Linked DNA regions of Homo sapiens: region 2 is linked to region 1. Evidence: fine-mapped expression QTL. Tissue or cell type: whole blood. Region 1 holds a variant in brackets; the other region holds the start of a gene. All regions are shown on one strand. Distances are between the middles of the regions.

What was found. PIP is the estimated chance that this variant, and not a neighbour inherited with it, causes the effect.
Region 2: IL1R1 starts here. The variant in region 1 is fine-mapped to the expression of IL1R1 in whole blood (TOPMed, PIP above 0.99).

The regions. Positions count from the first base shown.
Region 1 is chr2:102,027,103-102,031,266 of GRCh38, forward strand. IL1R2 (interleukin 1 receptor type 2) reads left to right here. Exons shown (of 9, transcript NM_004633.4): 9 at 1,124-1,442. The coding sequence ends at 1,290. Among named protein-coding and RNA genes, the nearest start is that of IL1R2, 37 kb to the left of the region's middle. The variant G/A (reference allele first, on the strand shown) is at 2,218.
Region 2 is chr2:102,140,422-102,144,421 of GRCh38, forward strand. It overlaps IL1R1 (interleukin 1 receptor type 1), which reads left to right and starts at 2,325. Exons shown (of 12, transcript NM_000877.4): 1 at 2,325-2,599. RefSeq lists enhancers at 3,188-3,482, 3,248-3,542.

The DNA of each region.
Region 1 (4,164 bases):
TGAGCCACTGGTCACAAACACAGATCTCAGGACTTACTCCAGATCCACCCTGTCAAATATTCCTAGGGAGAGGCTGCAGCCTGTGACACAAAAAGCTCCTTTCACAGTGAAGTTTGAGAATGAGGGCACACATGTGAAGGGTGGCGTTTCAGATCATTTCCAGATGAGCAGGCTGGGAGAGATGGTGGTTGTACACATTTACCCACAAAAATCAGAATGTTCCCTCTCGGGGTCAGATTAGTGAGCCCAAGGAACCTGTGGTTTGTCTGGCCCTGATGCTGGGAACCTTTAAAATTTTCCATAACATGAGCCTTGTCCCTGCATGTGGCTGGCCGTGACTGATCCAGGGAACACAGGCTGTAAGTCTTTCACCAGGACTGAGAGGTGTATTCAAACAGCTGCCCAGAATATTACAGCTGAACTTATTTCTAATCTTTGTGGGGTTTTAAAATGTGAGAATCCTCTGGAGCAACAGGCTGAGGTCATGTCGATTCCTGGATGACTAAACAGACTGTGATAGATAATAGCTTAAAAATGCAGGATTCTAGTCTCATCAACAATGTGTCTGATAACACTCTGTTCTCACATTTGCTTTTTAACTTTTTATTCAGAGTCTCTTCCTGTATTTCCATAACACAGAGACGCCAAGGAGCAGAACATAAAATAGCTGGACCCAAGCAATCGTGTTGGCCCCTGCAGCTCCATTATTCAAAATTTATTTTCCTTTGCTACTTCCTTTGATCCTCATGACACCCATGCTCATTAGAAAAGGGCAGATTGTTCCTGGCTCTGTCACAGTTGGCCAACTGTGACATAAACAGACAGCATCTTAAACGCACAGTGTCCCACTGTTGGAACAAAGTTAAACCCTCAGCACTTGCCCACTTACCCTACGATGTTTCTAACAGATTTTGCCCTATCACGCTCGTTTCTCTAATGCCACAGACATCACTCTCAAATATCCTCCATGTTGGTGTGAGGGATGTGCTTTCTGAAAATCAATGCACATTTATCAAGAAAAACAAACTCCAATTTCTTTCTTATCTTGTACACCTGCATTGCCCTGTCCTCTTGTACAGTGAGAGACTGTTCAGCTCCTGATGTGACTCTGTTCTTCCCACAGCCTCCTCCACGTTCTCCTGGGGCATTGTGCTGGCCCCACTTTCACTGGCCTTCTTGGTTTTGGGGGGAATATGGATGCACAGACGGTGCAAACACAGAACTGGAAAAGCAGATGGTCTGACTGTGCTATGGCCTCATCATCAAGACTTTCAATCCTATCCCAAGTGAAATAAATGGAATGAAATAATTCAAACACAAACTCCGTACGTCTTCTCTTATGGAAGTGGCTGTGTCTTTTTGAGGGACTCTGTTCTTTGCCTCAGTTGTCTACCAAAGGTGCCACATTTATAGTGGCTTTGTAGTAAAGGACTAAAGTCTTACATTCTGTTTTTTTTTTCCCTAAAAATCAGTGACAACAGTAGATGTGCCTGTGAGTGGGTGTGAGTAGCTGTCTGCTACTTGTGACCTATTTAACAGAATGAGGTGCTCTTAGGCCTGCATGAGAGTGGAAAACATCTACATGAGTTTTGACATTCATTCAACAAAAACATATTATGAGTCTATTTTGACTAGACTCTATGGGAGATGTTGTACATACAGTGATGGTTAAGACATAGTTTGCCTTTCAGGAAGCTGGTTGTTCATTTTGAGACTGAAAAGAATAATTTAGTGCTAAAGCAGAAGAATCAGCAAGAATTGGTGAACTTTTTTGGAAAGGGCTATCCAAAAAATAGCAATTAAAAATACACACATTGGAATGTATTAGTGAACTGAGAATTAGACCCAACTTCATAACAACATGTCTGAAAATAGAAGGAAGGGCATTAAAAGAATTGTAGACAAACTGAATAAAATGTACCCAGAGCCTCTTTCATATCATATACCAAAAATAAAATCCAGATAGATAAATGAGTTCAATTAAAAAAAAAAAAACTCCAATGGCAGGAAAATCAGCACGGCTGGTGACTCCACCTTTCAGGTCTCTGTTCAAATGTGACCTTCCCAGAGGGAAGGTCCCCAGAGAGGACCTTCCTTCCTCTCTGTCCCCTCACCCTGCTTTGTACCATTGTAGCTTTTATCACCACCAGACCTTCCAGTATAGATTTGCTTGTTGATTTTCAATTTATGTTTCCCACCCAAATGGAAGACCCATGA[G/A]GTCAGAGAGATTATTTTGGTCCCAGCTGTATTTCCAGTACCTCAAAGCAGGCATTTAATGAATATTTGCAGAATAAATGAAGATGGGATGAACTCTCTCTTGTTCATTACCAAAAGACTTGCAAGAGTAAAGGTGAGTAGGCTTAATTACATTATAATTTCTGCACAACAAAATAACAAAAGCAAGGTTTAGACAAAATTGTGTCAGACAAGTTCAAGGAATGAGTAACTATCATGTGTAGAGTTATTCAAAGTCATAGAAAAGGCATGTGTCTTAGTCTTTTTGGGCTGCTACAACAAAATACCATAACTAGGGTGGCTTGTAAACAACAGAAATTTATTTCTCACAGTTTTGGAGGTTGAGAAGTCCAAGATCAAGGTGCGAGCAGATTTGGTGTCTGGTGAGGGCCCACTTCCTGGCTAATAGACGGCAGCCCTCCTGACTTAATCACCTCCCAAGGGCCACAACTCCTAATACCATTGTATTGGAGGTTAGGGTTTCAACATATGAATTTTGGGAGGACACAAACATTCAGTTTATAGTAGCATCATCACCCTACAGATGAAAAAATGTGAGTAGGGGATTGCAGAAGAGACACACATAAAGGAACTCATGGAAAAATGACACTTTCAGTAAGAACCAGGGGATGTAAATTAGAGCAAATTTGAGATACCAGTGCACTCACACACTATCAAGTGTTTAAAAGTTTTTATGAAACACTCTCACACTTTAATTCAATTTATAATTTGGTGCTGGGAAGAAGAAAGGCAACATGAGCCAAGTCAGTTGGGTGCTGGACCAGCTTGCATCTTCTTGCAAGAGCCCAGGATGTGCCTCTCTTCTTGGCTCTGTTCAGTGATGTCATGTTGGTAGCTTAAAATCTGTGGCCATTGTGGAGTCTTTACACCACAGAAATTGGCAGTTGCCACAAATCAGCACTCTCTTCCCCAGTACATAACAACAAGGTTTGAGAGATGCCCAGTGATACTACTCCTGGGAATTTAGCTTAGGAAATAATTTAATAAAATAAAATCATTAGAGATATAAAATAATTTAATAAAACTTATTACCCCAATGATGAAAAATTATGCAGCAATTATCAATTATAATGATCAATACTATAATGACCAAATTATCAAAATTGTAAGACTTAAATGTTTACAGTGTTAAGGAAATATTATACATTGTTTTGTACAATTTTTATGGTTACAATATTGACATTTGTTTGCATCTAGACAAGGAGAAAACTTAAAAACTTGGACTTTGAAGGCAGACTTTGTGAGTTCAAGTTCAAGCACTGCCACATGGTGCCTCTGTGATCTTGGGCAAATCCTTTAATCTCAAAGTACATCAATTTTCTCATCTGAAAAATGGGGATAATCACTTAGTCCAAATTAACTTAGCTATTTAGCTATATTTTATATTTCCATTTTTCCTATTTTTCTATTTCAACTATAGTAACTGTTTAATAATCAAAAACATAGGAGGAATAGACAGAAATAAAAATTGTTGTACTTGGACTACGTGTTGACAAACCACAGCCTGTGGGCCAAATGCAGCCTGCCCTCTGTTTCTGTGGATTAAGAGTATTAGGAAACAGCCTTGCCTGTTTGTTTGCAGACTGTCTTTGGCCACTTTTGCTCTTTGAAGATAGAGTTGAGTAGTTGAGATGGCAAAACCTAGAATATTTACTATTTGGTCGTTTACAGGAAAAGTTTGCCAATGCCTGGTTTAGGTGAAGGCGGTTTTGAGCAGTTAACTTTTGACCCTCGCTTTTCTATTTTCCTGTTATCATCTCCTCTTTCCTTCTTCTGTTTTCTAAGCATTCAGGGAGGGAGAAGTACGGAGGGGCCGGCAGAGGCCTTTGAACACCTTATTAGATTTTAACCGGAAAGGAGAGGAGAGTGAGGTTTGAGAAGGAGGATTCGGTGAGGACGTTGCACAGG
Region 2 (4,000 bases), 110 kb after region 1:
CAGTTAAGTCTCCTGAATGATAAGCATTTCAGAGGTGGGAGGGAGACACCCCGGAAGGTGTCCAGAGGCTAACAATGCTATTTCTGTTTCTTGTAAGTTTTTGTCCAAGATGTGGGCCATTGGATTGCATCACTAGCATACAATGTCAGTGTAAGCAGTAGGCTTTACACTAAAGCATGTTGATGTGCTCAGAGCATTTTTGTGGTGCTGAGACCAGAGCAGATAGGGATACAGGGATGACAGTCTCCACCTTACGGAAGCCTCCTACCCAGGGGATGGAGTGAGACAGGCAGGCACACCAGTTATCCAAGGAAAGGAAATAAAGGGAAGGAGAAAGTCAGTGAAAGTGGTCAGGATGGCTGAGTGAGGGAGAAGGTGACTTGAAGGTCCCAGATAGAACAGTGGTAATAAGGTGAGAAAGAGGAGGTCTTCCAATTCCATTTCTGTGTTGGGCGGGTGTTTGAGAGTCCCACCTGGGTCTAGAGGCCTGCATGTCTAGCAGGACACTGGGTAGGAGTGGCTGAACGGGGACAACACTTAAAAAAGACAAAAATTACGGATTTTATTTCTACATGGTTGCACAAATCAATTTCACTTTCTACTTGTAAACTGCTTAAAAACCTTCATTATGAAAATGGAAGGACGAATTTATGTTCACCATCATAGTGCTTCTGGGCTGGTTCCACAGCATGGAGCCAGGCCCACCTGCTGTAGCTTTCAGAACTGCCATTTGGACACGTGGTTGAAGCAGCCTTCAGTTGGAGGATTCACAGTAATGGCATCACTGTGGGAGCTTAGAGGAACAACTGCTTGCAACCCCAGCTGCACTGGAATTACCTGGGAGCTTTAAAAACACTGCCTTTTGGGCCTCAGCCCCAGAGACTCTGACGTGACTGATCTGAACACAGGAGTGTCATGTCCTCCGGTGATTCTGAGTGGAGTCAAGGCTGTGAGACCTTCTGCTGTATAAAGGAATATTGAGAGCTGGGATTGTTAAGGAATTCTCTTAATGCTACGTCACTGGCCTCTGATGTAAGCCTGCTTTCTCGAGGAAAAGGAACCATAAAAGCTTCTGGAAACAGATTGTTTAAGAATGAGAAATTGTCATCATGCCAGGTTGCAAGACAGCTTTTAGGGCAGATGAGCTTCTGCTGCTCATTCCTTCATCTTTTCCTCCAGCCTGGATTTGTCCGGGGGCAGCTGAGGCTCAGGTTACCTCAATTCTTGAGTTTCTGAAGAGGCATATCCAGGGGTGGGTTACGAGAACAAGAGCCTGCCCAGTCTGAAAGGGATGCAGGAAGGGGCGGTGTGTACTAGAAGGAAGGAAGCTATCATCATTTATTAAAACTCTTCTTGGAGGATGGCCCATGAAGACCTCCAAACAAGCTGGAGGGGCCAGTCACTTGCTGAAGACTAGCGAAGTGGAGGGGGAAAGCCCGAGGGAGCTGCAGACTCGACCACTGCGCCCTCCCCTCCTCTCCCTGCAAGGAGCCCAAGGTGTGATCCTGCCAGGCGTTCGTTCGCTGCATGACCTTGGCCATCCTTCCATTCCCCTGGGTGTGAATTCTCATTGGCAAAGTGAGCTGGTGGGCATAAGTGGGTTTTAAGTTTAAAAATTTAAAAACCCTGTCTGCCCCCAAGTGTGGTATCAAGATTTTATAGTATGACACTTAAATTGCTTTTTTCATCCGGGCGCGTAACAGCAACAATGAAACCAGCAGATAACGCGTGAGTAGTATCAGCTCTGGGCCTGGCACTATTTTATATGTATTAGCTCATTTTTTTTAAAAAACTGTTTTCAACCACTCCATGAGATGAGTGCTCTTATGATCCCTTTTTCACAGAAGAGGAAACGGAGGTACAAAGAAATTAGTGCACAAAGCCAGTCGGAGAGAGCCCCTGGCCAGGCACCAAGCTCCAGAGGTCGCTCTGGCGAGCGTTTGCTTCGGGATCTGATGCCCTGGAGTCGCCAACTCAATTCGCGGGTCGCAGCCAGGCTCCATGGGGGTAGTAGAGCCAGGTCGTAGTGGCTAGGTGAGTTGTCTCAACTAACTCTAGTGGAGCCGCCGCAGCCCTGGAGGAGCCGGGCCGCGACTCGAGAGCGCCCGGCAGCTCTCCAATGCTTTGGAACCGGCGGGACCCCTGCGGGCTACCCGGGGCAGGGCGGTGTCCGCAGGGGTCTGTCCAGCCGCGCCTGCTCCTCCGGGTGGAGAGTTGGGACACCCGGCCAGCTCGCTCGCAGCCCGCGGACTGGCCCAGCCGAGCCGTCTCCGCCCGTTCCCCGCCCCCGCAGCGGCGGGGCTAGAGCCAGAGCCGCGCCCGGCAGTTCCCGGCCGCGAGGGCGGGCGCAGCTTGTGGCCGGCGGCCGGAGCCGACTCGGAGCGCGCGGCGCCGGCCGGGAGGAGCCGGAGAGCGGCCGGGCCGGGCGGTGGGGGCGCCGGCCTGCCCCGCGCGCCCCAGGGAGCGGCAGGAATGTGACAATCGCGCGCCCGCGCACCGAAGCACTCCTCGCTCGGCTCCTAGGGCTCTCGCCCCTCTGAGCTGAGCCGGGTTCCGCCCGGGGCTGGGATCCCATCACCCTCCACGGCCGTCCGTCCAGGTACGGGGAAGCTGGAGCATCCGGGGACTAGGTAGGGGTGAGACGGACCACAGCCTTGACACCTTCGAGTCCCCCGCTCTGCAGGACGCCGTGAGCGTCCTCCCTAAGTTGCACTTGGTTGTCAGAGTGTGTTGTGTAAGAAGGGGATGGCGGTGAGGTCTGCGTGTGTGTGTTTCTTGTGTGGAGCAAGAGTTAACGTTGTTCAGGTCGTTTGAAGGAACTTGCCAGTTGTTCTGGAGGGGGGTTCTAGGTAGGTGTGTGACTTCCCGTGTGAATGGCTTTCAGGTTTTCTATCCGGCTACGTTCTACAGGTTCAGGAGCGTCCCTCTTAGAGGTTAGGCTCAGGACCGTCAGTCTCCTTAACAAGGTAAGGGCTGAGGCCTTAACCACACTGGGGAGGGTAACTTGTTGCCCCTCCAGATAAAGGATGGTGCTAGGGAATGTAGCTACAAGCAAGTAGGCGCTGAGAAGACACTCATTATTTACAACAGTCATGCCCAGCACTTTACAGTTTATAAGCCCTTGACAGCAACTGGTCTTTTACCCTCCCTACAGTCTTGTGAGGAGGGTGCTGTCATCACCCCTGTTTTACAGCGGGGGAAGCAGAAGTTTAGGTGACCAACTTGTTGGAGGATGATGTCCTGAAGGAGGGTAAGACCTCTGCATGCAGCCCCCCTCTGTCTTCCCTCCCACTCGTCCTGCCTGCCAGGGCTTTCTCCTCTGCACTGCCGGGAGGAAGGAAGGCCGCTGGGAAGGCACGCAGATGCTGGCTCCTGCTGGGCTGTCTCTCCACTGCCTTATCTTTGGGGCAGGGTAGCTTCTCAGATGGCCACATTCCTGTGATTTAGCTTTACATTCTAGGAACTGAGGCAAGGGACACCATGAACTTGGGCTCTTGAGGTCATGGAGCAAGGGTCCATTCGTCACGGGAATGTGATGGATGTCTCAGTCGCTGCGGTTTGGTGCCAGGCTTCTGGACATTGAATGTATGAAACAGAACTCCATGACTATTGATGAGCTGAGGAAAGCCAGAGGTGGCATGGGGACGTTCACTGTCCTTTTTGCCATCCAGTTTACCAAGCGGCTATTGGCATTGTTTTCTTTCTCAATCCCTTCTAATTTATTGTGTGATATCTCATTTGATATTTCATTTAATATTCTGTATTCATATCCGATGTTAACGTTTATGCTAGACAGAAAGGTAGAGCCTTTGAGAATGGGGTTTGCTGGGGCAGGGGTGTGGAACTCTGATTTATTTTCAGTCTCTGGCTAGCTGCCAAGCTGCTGTGTGTGAAGCGTCTCCTGCACCCGTCCACTCTCATGTGGCCTCCATGCTGTTCAGGAAAGGATATTTGATCTGAATTCTCACATGACCTTGGCAGGCCCAGAGCAGCACCCCCA